2 separate regions of the Homo sapiens genome follow, and region 2 is linked to region 1. Evidence: fine-mapped expression QTL. Tissue or cell type: lung. Region 1 holds a variant in brackets; the other region holds the start of a gene. All regions are shown on one strand. Distances are between the middles of the regions.

Region 1 (8,175 bases):
CCAAAAGCCCACCTGCTGGCAGGTCCCTGAGGTCTCATCACAGACCTGGAGACTCTCCCAGAGGAGCCTCAAGAAGGTGGGTGACCAGGGAATGGCCCCTCCTGCTGGGAGCAGGTTCCAGGGAGAGCCTTTGGGAATGAGGAGGGATGGGGCAGCCAGACACAGAAAGGTCAATCCTGCAGAATAACAGTTGCAGGCAGAGCCTGGAGTTGTCAAATTCTGGGAGACGGAGGCAGAACGGGGACTGCCAGGGGCTGGGGGAGGGGAATGGGAGTCAGTTTAATGGGTGCAGAGCTGCAGTTTTGCAAAGGAAGTTCTGGAGAAGGATGGCGGTGATGGTTTTACAGCATTGTGACTGCATTTAATGCCACTGAACTGCTCACCCAAAAATGGTAAAAATGGTAAAATGTTATGTGTATTTTATCACAATACAAAAAATACCAAAAAGAAAATGCAAGCAGACAGTAGGGGCCTAGAGATAAACTAAACCCTCCCGCACCCCCAGCCCCTTCCTTCTGCAGAGGACAGAGGCGCTTGATCCTGGCCTCTAGTTTTCTGAGAGGAGGCCAGTTTGATTAAATCAATTCACACCTAGGCAGGCTCTCCAGGGAGGGGGTCCTGTTTAATCTAAATTACTCTCTGCAAGGTGCTCTTTCAGGCCTCTTGGAAGAGATATTTTTGTCCAGGGACCTTCCTGTTTCAAATAACATCCTTTGTGAGCCCTTCCTGGCTGGTCCTGGAAAGGTCAGTGAAGGGGCTGGCAGCCTCTGACTTCCTGTGGGCAGATTCCAGGAAGGGGCAGCAAGCCTGGCCGCTAGGCAGCCTGCAGCCTCCGATGGCTCCTCAGTGCTCCAAGAGCAAGCACCTGGCCGCAATTACCCCGCTGGGCACTCGGGGCTTCTGCAGGGGCACCTCAGCTGGGAATTAGGGGGAGGGGTGACCACCCCAGCAGCTGTGTCCCCACAGGGAGGGGGTCTGCGGAACCGGCCATCATTTACTGCACAGACCGTGTGATGGACATGAGCCCTCGCTGGTCTTCCAGGCCCACTGGCAGCGGCCCCTGCCTGGCCCTTGTGGCCACTCACTGTCCTGTCTCCAGAGACCCCACACCCAAGTGTGAGGGCCGAGTTCTCGGCCAGGTTCCCTTTGAAGAAGGGGTGATCCCTGGGCCCCCTGCGGCCTCCAGCTGCTGTCCCACGCAGGCTCTCTCCAGCCCTCCAGGCCCGGCCTGGCCGTGCCGACAGCACATGCTCCTTCCCCAGCCCCGGCCCGGTTGGTCCAGTGGTGCTGGCTGCTGCTGTGGGTGCTGCACTTCCTTCCTCGGATGCAGTAAACTTCACGTTTTGCCTCAGGACGTTCCGAATCAGCCATGGGAATTGAACACTGGTTTAAAGCCACATTGGTGTCATCCCTGCTTTCTGCCGCTCGGAGGCCTGTGCATGCGCAGCCGGGATGGCAGTGGCCCCTGTTTATTCAGACGGGCATTTCAGCAGGGCTGGAACTCAGAGACACACCTGGTTCTAGTCTTTGCTTCCTTGCCTGTAATTTTCTCACATGTCCCCACTGCAGCCTGGTGATCTGTTGGTCTGGAAGTGGTACAGGTGTTAATGGATAAATAGCTGTACTCAATTGTAAAGTGTGGTGCGGTCCGCTGGTTTGAGGGGTCATTTTCAAGGCGGGTGCCCACCAGGCTGCCTGCCTCACCAGCTCACCATGACCCAGCGTGACCTCACCGTGCCCTCCACCCAGCGTGACCCGGAGCTGAGGGCTCCTCCCGTTCCACAGTTGAATTCCTGCCCCCAAATTGTCATGATGATGCTGGGACCAAGAACAGGTGGGTGGGGGCAGTGGCGGCGGCCTGGGAGCAACTGGTTTAAAGCTGGAGTGAAAACCCTGACTCTCCAGGATCTCGTTCAAAGGGGCCACTCCTTGTCGGAGCTGCCCTGAGCTGCCCTGGCAGAGCAAGGCCCTGGCGTGGAGCCCGGGACGTGGGCCCCTGCCTTGTGGGAGCTTGGGCATGGCGTAAGCCCCAGACACCATCCTCTCCCGCCACCCGGCGCTGCGCCGGCCAACTTCCCCTCCCTGAGGTTGGCGGGTGCGTCCAGGTCCCCTCCCTGAGGTTGGTGGGTGCGTCCACGTCCTCTCCCTGAGGGTGGTGGGTGCGTCCAGGTCCCCTCTCTGAGGTTGGCGGGTGTGCCCCTCCCTGCAGGGCTGTTCGCCCCCTCCCTATTTCTTGGTTCTGGGCTGCAGTCTTAGAACACACTGGTGACAGCCGCCCGAGCCAGCCAGGGGTAGGAGGGCAGGGTGCCCAAGAGGCCAGGTTTCCCAGCGCCAGGGTGCCCAGGAGGCCAGGTTTCCCAGCGCCAGGGTGCCCAGGAGGCCAGGTTTCCCAGCGCCAGGGTGCCCAGGAGGCCAGGGTGCCAAGCGCCAGGGTGCCCAGGAGGCCAGGGTGCCCAGCACTCTGCCCGAGAGTGTCTGCTGGCCCCGGTGCAGCCACGGGTTTGCTGGTTGGTACTGAGGAAGGTGCAGGGCTTGCAGAGGGGACTGGGCAGGTCACATGTCTGAAGCTCAGCAGTGGGTGGCAGCGCTCTGGGTGAAGAAGCAGCACCAGGACACAGGGAGAACCCTGGGAAGGTCAGTGGAGGCGCATGCAGGACACAGACAGCTGCCGACTGAGTCGTGCCCCCAGATTCGCAGCTGAGGCCCAGCCCCAACGGGACTGTATCTGGAGCTAGGACCTTGAGGGAGGGACTTAAGGTTAAATGAGGTTGTGAGGAAGGCCCTGACCCAATAGGACGTGTCCTTGTAAGAAGAGAAAGCGACACCAGGGATGCGTGTGTGCAGAGGAGCGGCCGTGGGAGGACACAGGAGAAGCCACCGTCTGCGGGCCATGAATAGGCCTTGGGAGAAACCGCCCAGCAGCCCCTTGGTCTGGGACTTCCAGCCCCCAGGCTGCGAGGGAACAATTTCTAGTGTTGAAGCCCCCGCCCATGGCGCTTTGTTACAATTGCTGGAGCTGATGAGGCCGGTCTTACACTTGCCCCTTATCCGACAGGACTGGCACCAGCGCTGCGGGAGGTGGCGGGATGTCGGGAAGCTCCGGTCTTGGGAAATGCCACCTTCCGCAGGTGATCCTTGAGCTGCGGCTTCTGACCCTGCGGATGGAGGGGCATGTTGCCCAGGAGGCTGTGTTGGGGCCCTCAGGGAAGGAAGGCCCGTGTCACAGATGGAGCCGTAAGCTCTGTGGTGCCCGGCACGGGAACAAGCCTTCTTTGGCCGCCTCTCAGCCCCCGTTACCATGAATACCGGGGCCCGGGGCCTGGGGCCCAGGGCCCAGTGCCCTCCCAGGATGGAGAATGGGCCAGGAAAGTCCATTTCCTCTTCTGCTGACCTACTCCCCCTTACCTCCCCTGAGTTCTGAGCACGTTGCCCAAAGAACAGGGGCTCTGAGTGAGTTTGGGATTGGAGGGGAGGGGTGTGTATGGGGGGGGCAGCTGATGGTCACGGGTATTCTAGGGGGAAGATGTGGGGAGGGCCGTGAGCACCTCCTGCCTGGAGTTCTGGGCAGTGGCTCAGGAAGAGGGGAGGGGGACAGAGAGAGACACAGAGACAGAGACAGAGAGACAGGGAGACAGAGACAGCCAGACAGAGACAGCGAGAGACAGAGACACAGAGACAGAAAAACAGACAGAGACAGATGGACAGAGACAGAAAGAGAGACAGAGAGAGAGACACACACAGAGAAGCAGAGAACAGGGAAGAGAGGGGAGAGGGGAGAGAGGGGAGTGGGGAGGGGAAAGGGGAGGGGGAGGGGAGGGGGGAGTGGAGGGCAGAGAGGGGAGGGGACAGCGAAGATGAGAGAGTGAGGAGGGGAGAGGGGAAAGGGGAGAAGGGAGAGGGGAGACAGGAGAGGGTGGAGGGGAGAGGGGAGAGGGAAGAGGGGAGAGGGGAGAGGAGAGAGGGGAGAGGGGAGACGGGAGGGGCGAGGGGGGAGGGGAGAGGGGAGAGAGGGGACAGGAGACGGGGGAGGTTTTCTTCCTCCTGATTATGGGGGCACCAGGGCTTATAGGGCTGGGCTGCCCCTGCCCTGTGGAGCGTCTGGGCTCTGTATGGAGGGGCCCTGTCTGGGGCCCAGAGATGCTGCCAGGGGTGGCCGGGTGAACTGACTGCGGCCCAGTGCAGCTCTGGGGAGGGGAGTGGCCACCCTGACGCCACCTGCCCCGCCTCTAGCACCAGAAGCAAAGGTGGAGGCCAGGAAGCCCCGGGAAGTCCTGCAGGGCTGCAGGGAAGAGGGGTATCTCTAAGCAACAGCCACAGTTGGTGGCTGGGAGCACTTCAGACTCCACATGACCAGGTCTGATCCTGCCAGCAGCACCCATGATAATGGTGACTTGGGCAAAATGAAAGTTCACTTCTCCCTCACTAAGCATTTTGTTCTGAATTTGTTCATCTGTTGATCTGTCCCGGCGAACCCTCTTGTCTCTGCCTGAGTGTCCAGTGGCCTCTCTGCACCAACGGAGTTATTCCTTGTCCACGCTGTCCTATGCAGCAGCCACCGGCCACATGTGGCTATCGGCACTTGAGCTGTAGCTGCTGTGGCTGAGGACCTGGATTCTTCATTTTTTAAAAAAAATTTTAACTTAAATATAAACTTCAGTGACCACACAAGCTTAGTGGCTGCTGTCCCAGTGAGGTCTGGGTGCTGAGGACACAGTGGGGAAGACAGTCCCCAGGGAGCCTCCATCCCAGGAGATACAGAAAACAAGCCAGGGGAGAGCACAGAGAGGGAGGCAGGGACAGCTGTGGTGCCCGTGGCGGCTCTGGTGCCCATGGCGGCTGTGGTGCCCGTGGCAGCAGGGACGGCTGGGACAGCCAAGTTACAGGCTCAGTGACATCTCTCCATTAGGACTGGGAGAGGACTGGGGGTCCTACTGCCTAGCACTTGAGAATGTGATGGTATTGGGAGGGAGCTGTTTGCAGAGGTCATCAAGTGACAGCTCACAGGGGTGCA[T/C]CCTAATTCAATATAACGGGTGTCCTTATTAAAAGGGGGAATTTGGACACAGAAATAGACACTCACAGAGCAGGGACGATACAGAGACACAGGGAGAAGCTGGGGCCTGCAAGCCAAGAAGAGGCCGGAACCGGTGCCCGCCTACAGCTCAGGGGAGCAGCCCAGCCACACACTGACCTGGGACTTCAGGCCCGAGGCTTCGAGACGTGTCTGTGGTGTGCACAGCCTGGCTGCACTCATTTCCACAGCGGCCCGAGCGTATTGGTATAAACGTCCCGTGTCCACCCTCCCCCTCAGCCTGGCTGCTCTGAACTGGCCCAGGCCCAGCTTGCCCACCTTGGCTGCAGCCCCCAACGGCTCTGCCTCATGCTGAGCCTCCCAAGGGGTTCCCCTCAGAACATTCTCCCATGGCGTGGTCACCTAGAAGCTACTCCGAGCTGTCATGCCGGTGCAGTGACCACATCCCTCCCCAGCCAGTGCTTGTCAATGGCCCTCCTGGGTGAATCTCCCTTCCCTGCACCCCCTCCGCCAGCCACCTGAGCCCTCCCCGGGGCCCTGGGCTCCGCCCTTGCGCCTCTCGTTGCCTGGTGAGCAGAGCTTTCTTGTCCCACTGGAGTAGAGAGCGTGGAGCCAGCGGTGCGAGTTCCTGAGCACGGGGAACTCCGGGATTGCTGGGCATGCTGGCACCGTCCTGAACCCCATCTCCCTGTTTACAGAATGACGCCTCCCTCCAGGGACAGCTGTGGGGAGGGGAAGCCAGCAGGGAGCACCCCCCCTCACCAGCAGGGGGCACCCACTCACCAGCAGGGAGCACCGCCTCGCTGGAGCTGCACCTGTTTCCTCCTCCCCTGCTTACCAGTGTCTTCCAGACCCGGTGGGGGGGAACAGAACCGAGGGAGATGGAGACGCAGGTGTGGCTGTGTGTGCAGATTGGCGGTCAGGATTCACCCGAGGGGCCATGGGGATCACATGCCTCATCGCCTGGGATGTGCTGGCTGGGGCAGGGCCACCTTTCTCAGGAGGGGGATCTGCCTGGGTTCCCATGGGGCCCTGCTCCCTGCATGCAGGTGGGCCGGGGCTGCAGCGGCTGGTACGAGACAGCCAGCCAGCGATGGGAAACAGCGTTTCTGGGGGGCCTTCTGAGGGCAGGACGGCGCCTCTGGGGTGCTGGTTGAGGCCAAGGCGGTGGTGCCTGGTCACCGACCTCGGAGCGTTTGATGCCCTGAGACCTGGGATGCTCTGGGAGACAGAGGTGCAGGCCGGGCGTGTCCTGACACCTTCCAGCATGTCCCGGCCTGGTCCGCATCTGTGACCACAGAGGTCTTCTTGGCACTTCTTGGGATCAGAGCCCTGAGGCCCATGCATCCGGAAACGCCGTTTGGAGATGTGGAAAGTCCCTTTTGACTCACAAAATCTGCCTTTGTCTCAGCAAGTGTCCCAGAACCGTGGGGACGTAGTGGCCCTAGACTGGGAAGTGGGGCTCGGGAACCAGATTCAGAATTACTCACCTTCCCCAAAGACACGGGGCCTGCCGGGAGGAGGGACGTGGGTCACAAAAGTGGGCCGTGGCCACCCCAGGGTCAAGCAAGCTCGCCGTGTGCACTCGGGGAAGGCAGGCTGTGCGGACGCCTACAGAGGAACATGGGGGCCACTCTGCCTCCTGTTTCCCGGCACCCACACCCGCTAGGGCCACTGCCCAAACAGTTCTCGAGGCAACCTCGGTTCCAGGTTCCGGCATGTGGCACCATTGCTGCTGTGTGGACACCACCCCTCAGAGAAGGCCAAGCCGGCAAGGCCCAGGCAGTGTCAACCGCCCCAGCTCCCAGAACCGCATCTGTCAGGCTGAGCCGCCTCTTGGTTTGGGGCCCAGGGCCCTCGTGAGGATGTAGCTGAGCACCAGCTGCATTTGCCTGGAGTGGTTCCTGCCTTCCAGGGGCTGCTCCCCACCAGGGCTGGGCTTGGGTGCAGGCACTGGGGCCGCACGTCCTGGGGAGATGCTGTTACCAGCGAGGGTCCCCCGCCAGGATCCCAGCCGGCTGCCGTGGAGGCCAAGGGCTCACACTTTCCCCCTTCCTCTTGCCTACGGACCATGAGGACTCAGCAGCCACCTGGTGGGCTACGCCCATGGGGATGAGGAGGGAGCCCAGCTGTGGGGACCATCGGAGGCTCCCAAAGTGCACCTGCTGCCGCCCAGAGCCCCCCCCCCACCCCAAGCTTGGGTGAGGGGCGACCCCTGCAGCTGTTTCAAAGTCAAGACTTCAGCTTGCTCTCCTTTCAGAGGCCTGGGTGGTGGGTGCAGGTCCAAGGCTTCTGGCCAGTGCCCTGGAGTCGAGTATCCCCGGCTCACCTCAGGGCACATGTTAGGACCCAGCATGTGTTAAGGACCTGGTAGAAAGCTGTGTGTTGCAGTTGAACAGACACCCTGGGGCTCCCACTGTGCACACAGGGCTGTGTCGGGCAGTGGGGCTTAGCTTCCTGGGCCTCTCTCTGGAGCCCAAGTCCTTCTAAGTTTGGACCTTGATCCTGTTTTGGTTTCAAGGTTTGTAGTAAACTAAACGGTGGCCTCCAAAGAGCTACATCTATGTCCTGATTCCTGGAACCCGAGAATATGACCTTATTTGGAAAAGAATCTTTGCATGTGGGGTAAAGATCTCCAGCTGAAGTCGCCCCAGTTTATGTGAGCGGGCTCTAAGCCCACTGGCAAATCAGAAACAGACGAGGAGAGAGGCACACAGAGGAGGAGGCCCTATGAGGTTGAGAGGTGAAGCCCGCTGGGCCTCTGGGTAGGGTGGGGACTTGTAGAACTTTTCTGTCTAGCTAAAGGATTGTAAACACACCAATGAGCAGCTCTGTGTGTAGCTAAAGGTTTGTAAATGCACCAATCAGCACTCTGTAAAAATGGAGCAATCAGCACTCTGTAAAATGAACCAATCAGTGTTCTGTAAAATGGACCAATCAGCAGGATGTGGGTGGGGTCAAATAAGGGAATAAAAGCCGCCCTGCCCTGCCCCACCCCGCCGGCAGTGGGTGGTGCCCTGGGGTTCATTTCAATGATGTGGAAGGTTTGTGTTTTTTTCCGCTTTTCCCCTTTTGCAATAAATCTTGCTGCTGCTCACTCTTTGGGTCCGTGCCACGTTTAAGAGCTGTAACACTGCAAAGATCTG
Region 2 (8,175 bases), 31 kb after region 1:
AGGATGCAGATGGCGCACCAGGAGATGAGCCCCCCACCCTAACAGGAAAGCAGAAGTGGACTGGGGGGACCCGCGGACCTGGGGAGAAGCTCCGTGGGCAGAGGCACACAGATACCTGGAGGCAGCCTGCGTCTGGTGAGAGCCCTCCCAGGCCACAGCCCTGATTCCAAGCCGTGGGCACGAGCGGCCTCCTGGCTTGGAAGCTGGCATTGGGTGTCCGTCCTAATCCATTAGAAACTCCACCCCAGGGTGGCAGGCAGCAGGGACTGTTTCGAGAATCTACACACAGAATGTAACCACCATCGGCTACACTTTCGCACTAAATCCCAGGGTTCCCCTGGCTGTGCCCTGCACACGGCCAAGAGGCCATCGCAGATGACCAGGCTCACATCATAAGGATGCGAGATTGCATTTGAAGAGGCCCCCTGGGCAAAGCTGGACACCGATGCTTGGAAAGGGCACTAATGGTGATCGACTGAGACCCACCAATGTGTTTCATCAGCGATGTACAAATATACTTGGGAGATTGTCGGGAACCAATTCACCGTTGTGGAAACTGACAAATGAGGGAGAGGCACCCTTGCCCTGCCTTTCCTGTGGGCACCATTATCCAGATGGCCAGACGGACAAGATGAGCCTCTCCCTCCAGTGAATTCATGACGAAGCCACCACGCACTGGAAAATCACCATTTTGCTCCATGAATCTGTCGATTCAGACATCAAGCACCAACGACTGCGGACGGAGGAGCTACCACCAGACAGTGCGTGGCTCCCTCTGCGAGCCCCCGGCCTTGCCAGGGGACTGGACCCGGATCCCAGCAGTCCCCTGGCTCCAGGTGCCCACTTCCAGGAGACGCAGAGGCCTGCACCGAAAGATGCAGCTCCAACCCAGGCCTCGGGTACCTCCACGTGTCCGAGGGCCACTTCCTACAACAGGTGCCGGGTACAGAAAAGGACAGAGGGATGGAGGTGGGTAGGAAGAGAGCACTGAAAGTCACACAACGCACATTTAACCCCAGGCTGCCGTGTGGGAGGATATACGTGGACACGGAAACCCACAGAGCGAAGGGAGGGGCCACCAGACCCCTAGGGATGGGCTACTGATGGGATGGGAGGGGCCTGCAGCGGCTTCTGGGCTCCGGCAAGGGTCTCTGTCTTGACCCGCAGGTGCTTACAGGGTGCTGATCCCTGTCGTGACTCACCTGATTAGAATGCAAAAGGCAGCAGACCTCACCCCCCACCCGAGGTCTCCCACAAGTAAGATCTAAGATTTAAACAAGAGAAGCCACCTGCCTTCTGCCTGGCAGGGCTGGGCACCCACCCAGGTGCTTCAGCCATGGCCCCTGGTCCTAGTCAAGATTTTGTAATCACAGAGAAGACCACCCTCGGAGCTGCCACAGGACCCTAAACTCCTGGGCCTCAGTTTCCTCCTCTGTAAAATGAAGCTGATGAGTCCTGAGTCCGGGAGCTGGCCCTGGCCACAGACCCTCCAAACCAGCTCCTCTGAAGGTCCACAGCCAGCACATGGCGGGCAGCCGGCCCTGGGGTCCTGGGGTGTGAAGCAGAGCTTGGATGTGCGACGGGAGCCCTGCACATCTGTTGCTCCTGCTGGCATCACTTGGGAAGGCCTCGTGCCCACCCTGAGCTCTGTCCAACCCTCGGGAATAGCGCTGGGTGGCAACCAGGGTTGAATGTACAGAAGCCCCTGCTGGGGTGACTGAGGAGAGGGTTTACCCAGCACCCTAAGTGTGAACCCTATAATTGACCCCATTGGGCACTTCTGTTCCCACCCCCTGGATCTTTTTAGCAAAGCCAGCCCTCCTCATAAGGATGCCTGGGAACTATTTTATCTTCTGGGGAGGTGATGGTTTCCTACCTTCCAACCCACTGACCCAGGGAGGCAGCTGACCTAGCACCATCCACAGCCCTGAGCTCCCTTTGGTGGGAGGTGGGGTGAGAGTGTGGAGCAGGCACAGCTCCAGACACCCAGGCCAGAGGAACCCCCACCTCTGCAAGGGCTGGTGCTGGATGGGCGACGTTCCAGGAGGGTCCCAGGCCTACAGCTTCTGCCCAGAAGAGTCCATGGGGCAAAGGGGTAGAACCCTAGGCCACCCCAGGGCATGACTGGCTTTACTGGAAATGGCTGGAGAGGTTGGGCTTGCGTTCCTTGAACCCACAGAGCCCGGTGATCCCACAGCCCGGAGGCCATCACTCCCCTCCAGCTGCCTTTTAGGATTAGACAGGCAAGCGGCTAAAACATGGCCAGGCCATACCCATTTTCCACGTGACAAGAGGCTGTGGCCGTGTTTGCCCACACCACCTGTGTTTCTGCTTTGTTGTCGTACAGCAGTTGTGGGTGATTAGGAATAAAGGCTGACTCATTGCACCTGTGTGCCATAGCATTTTAGCCCAATTCCCCATTGACGGACATCTGATTGTTCCGTTTTTCATGAGTCATTTGTTGAGAAATGTGCCAGGTGCTGGCCGGTGGTATCCTGGTGTCTGCCTGGTGGGTTCTGGAACTCCACCTTCCCTGCATCACCCTGTGAGCTTCTGGAACATTTCCCAAGGAGGGAAGGGAGGGTTCTAGGGCAGGGGCCGCGGGGCACTCCTGGGGCAGGTGTGGAGGAGACTGGGGTCTTCGTGGGTGGTATTTGTCATGGGTGGGGGGGGGGACTCCCTCTACTGGGTTAGGTCCCTAAACTGGAGCTGGACCAAGCTCCGGAGTACCCCACCCCCAGGCTATCCAAGGCTCCTTCCACTGGAGTTGCCTTTGCAGCCAGGTTGGGCTAGCCAGGAGCCAGGCTAGGAGCCCAGGGTCTGAGCGGGTGTTGACAGCCTGGAGTGGGTGGGCGGACTGTGTGGGAGGTGGGTGCTGGAGGATGGCAGGGGGGAACAGGAGGGGGAAGAAGGAGGGGTAGGGGGCTGGAGCAGGAAATGGGGGGCAAACAGGAGGGGGTGCGGGAGGGGGCGCAGAAGGAGGAGGGGCCCAGCAGGAGGGGGTGCAGAAAGGGCAGGGGTTCCAGCAGGAGGGGGTTCATAGGGGCAGGGGGGCCCAGCAGGAGGGGGTGCAGGAAGGGTGGGGGGGTGCAGGAGGGGTGAGGGGTTCCAGCAGAAGGGCGTGCAGGAGGGGCAGGGGGCTGGAGCAGGAGTGGGGGGTCGGGGAAGGGGACAAGAGGGGAGGCGGGGAGGGGGCCGGGGAGGGCGGGGAGGGCGGGGAGTTCCAGCAGGAGGGGCAGGGGGCTGGAGCAGGAGGGGGTGCAGGAGACTGAGCGGGGATTCGCGGGCTCTGCGATGGTCGGGAGCGCAGGCAGCGAAAGCCCCGCGTCCCGGGTCGCGGCGGTCAGACAGACGCAGCCTGGGTTGGGGTCCCTGCAGGAAGTCGCCGCGGGCCAACTTTTCGTGGGGCCGCGGGGCAAGCAGGTGAAGTCACGTGGCCCGGGCGGGGCGGGGCGGCTCGGTCGGACCCCGCCCCTGCCTCCAAGTCCCGTGGCGTCGGCGGGAGCGGCGCAGCGCGGGCCGGGCCGGGACGGGGACTGTCGGCTGCAGGCGGCCATGCCCACCAACTTCACCGTGGTGCCCGTGGAGGCTCACGCCGACGGCGGCGGGGACGAGACTGCCGAGCGGACGGAGGCTCCGGGCACCCCCGAGGGCCCCGAGCCCGAGCGCCCCAGCCCGGGTGAGCGCGGCCGCACCTGGCCGGACAAAGGCCGAGCGCCCCGAGCGCGGGTCTGGGCCCGGCATCCGGGAGCGGAGGCGGGCGGCGGGGCCGGGGGTACAGGAGGCGCCCCTTCCCGCGCCCCCACCGCCTGTTCTCGGTCCCCCACGAGGGCCCCCACCCCACGTTAGTGGCAGCGCTAGGGGGCGAGGGGCCCTGCCAGGGCTCCCGGTACGGTCAGCTCGGGTGGGACCGGGGGCAGAGGTGTGGACGCCGCTGCTGGTAGCCATGGAAACGGGGAGGGGCTGGAGCGCGCCTCCGGAGGGAGCCCGGGCCCCTGGGTGGTCCCTAGTGGGACAGGGGTGGCGGTGGAGACCCGGGCGGTTCGGGAGCCGGGGCGTCCTGCGTCCCCCGCGCTCTCCCTTCCCCTGCGCCGCGGCCGTCCGGTAACACTAGCCCGGGCCGGCCCGTCCTGCCCCCGCCTGACCCTGGAGGAGCCGCCCACCCCCCAGAGGCGGAACAGGAAGGACTGCGCCCTGGCTGGGGAGGGGGCAGCCACCGGGGCCTTGCTCAGGCCGCGTCCTCCGTGTTCCCGTCCCCCGTTCCGGGAATCTGGAGGTTTCTAGCACTTTCACTTTCTCTAGGGGGTGGGGACGGGGCTGGGGAGAGAATCCCCCAGCCCTGTTCCCTCCATCCTGGCTCCAAATCCCAGTTACTCCCCGGATCTCAGCCCCCTCTAGAAACCGGAGGCTCTTAGGCCCTTCCATCCGGAGTCTCTGAGAAGGTGTCCGGACTCAGTCCAGCCCCCACCCCGCGTGCTGGCAGTGCCCGCATGTGCCCGGGTCTCATGCAGTGGGTGGCAGCCTCCCTGCTCCCTGGCAGTGGAAGGAAGGTGAGGTCTGTCCAGGGACAAGTCCGGTGCCAGACCCCAGATCCTTCCTAACCCACCATCCCGGGCAGGAAAGGCCAGACATCCCCTCCAGGCAGTTTAGGAACCCGGAGACACGGGTGGGGACCCACCGTGAAGGCAGTGGCCTGGTGGCCTGGGGTGCGTCATCAGGGTCCCCGTGGCGGGCGAAGAGTGGTCTCAGCTTCCTCTGCACAGAGGCCAGCCCAGATCTTGGAAGTGGTCAGGCGGGGCGCCAGGCTCAACACCAGGTGAAGTGCTAACTAAGCAGGGTCCGTGAGTCCAAGCCCCTTCTCTCCAGTCACCACCGTGGAGGCAGGAAGCACCAAGGAGTGTGGGCCCTGGCGTGGTCTTTCTGTGTGAGCTTTGTAGCAACGCCCCCGGAACGCACTCAGAAGGAGCCTCTTCTTGTCTGGCCGGCCCCTTCTCAAGGCTGATCAGGTTCACTTTTGTCTTTAGACTGTAAGTGTCATTTGCTTTTAAGCCAGAGAGAATTTTGTGCTTGTTCGTTTTCTTGTCTCTTCTACTCTCAAGGCTGTTGAGCAGTGCCCTGGGCCTGTGTCTGCCCAGCAGGAAGTGGCCCTGGCTGAGCGCTGCCCATGTCGCTGCCCGCGCACTCAGGTCCTGCTACGGGCGTGTCAGGAGGCTCCCTGGCCTTCATGAAATTGAGAACGGGAGGGCATGGGCCAGGTGTGGGCTTCTGGACACTTTTGAGGGTGGCCCTGTGGTGTGAGCTGAACTTGGGAGATTTCTCCGAACTGGCAGAGAACTTGCACCTGGCGCTTTTGTGCTGGACCCGCTTCCTACTTCCACAGAAAGGGCCCGGTGCCCAGCCACTGCCAGGCTGTAACGGGCACGCAGCTGCCCTTCGGAATCCACTTGATCACATCCTGATCTTCAGCCCACAGAGGTGCGGCGAGGAGTCCCGTGATGGGCACGGAGCCTGGGGAAGGAGGCACAGGCTTTGCTTTTTGGTGGTGGTTGGGGGCGGGGGTCCTGCAGAAGCCGGAGCCCCTCCCAAAGGCCTTCTGTGTGGGGTCCACACCACAAGGTCACAGGCCAGGTCCAAAACTGTCCGGCCACAGAGTTACCAGCACCCAAGCTCTTCCTGACTCCATTGCCGTTCCCCTGAACGGTCTGTGGAGGTACTGGAGCTTCTGGGCTGGCGCCTGGGTGACGGCGAAGCAAGTTTGGGGGGCCTGGTGGGCTGATCCTAGGCACTGCCAGGTGGGCGTGGAGAGGGCGTCCTGAGCCACCCCAACTTGAGGAGCAGGGGCCTTGGTGTCCCCAGCCTGGGTTGGGGGGTTCTGGGGAAAGAGGGGTAGATGCTGCTGCCCGGGCTGCCTGGCTCGACCCAGAGCCCAGCAAGGCCGCGTCTGCCCAGCCTGGCTCCAGGGGCCTTCTGTCCCCGACCCCTGCAGCTTCCCTGCTGCTTCTGGTGGAGCCTCTGCGGGAGGCGTCCTGTCCCGGGGATGGGCACTGTGCCCTCAGCACTTCTTGGGACGGAGCTTTTATTCTTATGTGAAATACCTCGTCTTGAAATGAGAAGGACGTGTTAACCCTCAGTTTCTCAGTGGGGTGGTTTTTTGAGAGTAGGAGGTGGGAGGACACTGCTGGGGGCCGGCTGCGTCTCGTCCGACTTCAGGGTAGAGTGGGTTTTGTAACTGACTTGGGGGAGCCCACCCTTCCTCCGTGACCACATCAGGGTAGACTCACTCCTTCCCAGGTTGTAGGGGTGCGTCCAGAGGCCTCGGAGACCCTGGGAGGGGTGGGAAAGGAGGGCTGGCCAGTGCCCCGGCCTGTCTGGAAGGTGCAGCGTGCAGAGCCTCTGTCAAGGTCCCACAGGCCCTGGCCACCCACTGTCTAGGAGGGACTTCCACTCGTCTGGGGCTCCCTGGGCTGGGAGAGGGTGGGTCCTGCCTTGTACCCCCAGGTCTCCCACCCTCAGCTGGGGCTCTCCCAGGTTTGCCGGGAGCTTCTTCCTGGCTTGGGCGCCACTTCCCTCTTTGGGTTCCGTTTCTGAGATTTTCCACTGTGGCTGAGCTCGTGTCGGTTGTCCAGGGGCGGTCCTGCCTCCCTCTGCCCCTGGCCGCTGACAGAGGCCCGGTTGCGTGGTCAGTGGCCTGCCCGTCCCTCCTGCTCCAACTACCTACCGTGTCCGTGTTGGGAGCCCCCTCCCAAAATCTGAGGACAGCTAGAGCTGCCGCTTTGTCCTGGGCCGTCCTCGCCTGTCGGGTGCTGGGTGCCATGCTCTGCACTGCCCTTGGGAATGGCGAGACGGTGCACGCCGGTCGTGCTGATCTGGGGTCCCCTTTGGGGATGCAGGGACTTGGGGGATCACGCATTAGATAGGGGGACCACACACAGAGCGTCCAGGTTCTGTCCTGCCGAGTAGGGACAGAGAGCTCTCGTTGTGCCCAGATTTCAGGAGGGCGTTCCCGACACGGACATGGGAGGCAGTCGGAGCAGGAGGGACAGGCAGGCTGTTGACCCCGCGGCTGTGCCCGGGAGCCCCTGCAGCAGCTGGGCACTGCGTTGCGGGAACGGAAGGTCATGGGTATGTGGTGAGCAGGCAGGGAGGCTACAAGACATGCATTTTGTGTATCGAGTTCCCTTTTTAAAACCAAAGGAAACAAGATACACAGGAACGCCGTGGCTGCTGGGCATCCAGGCCGGGGCCTGTGCTTCCTCCTGCGCCTGACATACTCCCAGGCTGTCTCCCGGCAAGAGGCTCTCCTTAGCAGGCATGCGGTAAAGCATGGTGCTTTAGGTCAGCTGGCCGGGTCCATGTGTGCGGGCACCTATGTGCCTTGTGAGCGTGCAGGTGTATCCACGTGTGAGCCATGTGCTTGCACTGTGTATATGTGCACATATATGTACACACGTGTGCATACATGTGTACTGTGCTCTTGCACAGCTGTGTGCTGTGGGCATGCTCACGTGTGTGTGTGTATGTGTGTGTTTGTATGCTGTGGCAGGTAGAGAGGGGCTGGGGCTTCCTCCACAGCAGAGGGTCACGCGGTGTTGGGTGTTGGGTATCCGTTCCCTCCCCCTGGTCTAGGCCCATCAGTGAGTGGTGAGGGGCTCCCTCTCCTGGTGTGGCCTCGTGTTCAGGTCTGAACCTGCTCCTGGGCCTCTGATCATATGAGGAGACCTTTGCCTCGTGGACTCAGGTTCATGGTTTCCTCTTCTGCAAAGCTCCCCAGGCTTCTCTGAGTGGGCGAGGCCAAACGGATTCCACGGTGGTTTTCTGTCTAGCGTTGGACACCAGATCCCCTTCTTAGAGTGCGTGGCTTTCTCAGTGCCTCTCCCGTGGTCTGGATGGCTGTCGGGAAGGTGGTGCCAAGGGGAGGGCCAGGTGCTCAGGCCTGGGTGCAGGGCGGCTGGTCGGGGCCGAAGTCACACAGGTTTGCTGGGGATCGGTGAATGTCGGAGACCTTGCCAGGTGGTGGCTGGAGTCAAGCAGAGGCACCTGAGGGACCCTGAGGGTGAGTTGGGGGCTGTCCTCCCCTCATGCCCGGCAGTGAGTGGGCCGTGGAGTGAGGCCACCTCTGTCAGGGCCTCTGCCCTTTGGACGTGGGGCCACGTCCTACACAGCTCCCTGGACCTG

Evidence for each region. PIP is the estimated chance that this variant, and not a neighbour inherited with it, causes the effect.
Region 2: it holds the start of SLC12A7, and the variant in region 1 is fine-mapped to the expression of SLC12A7 in lung (TOPMed, PIP 0.93).

The regions. Positions count from the first base shown.
Region 1 is chr5:1,138,110-1,146,284 of GRCh38, reverse strand. It overlaps a transcript of SLC12A7 not described here. Among named protein-coding and RNA genes, the nearest start is that of SLC12A7, 30 kb to the right of the region's middle. RefSeq lists an enhancer at 4,948-5,791. The variant T/C (reference allele first, on the strand shown) is at 5,012.
Region 2 is chr5:1,107,372-1,115,546 of GRCh38, reverse strand. SLC12A7 (solute carrier family 12 member 7) reads left to right here and starts at 3,484. Exons shown (of 24, transcript NM_006598.3): 1 at 3,484-3,679. The coding sequence starts at 3,556.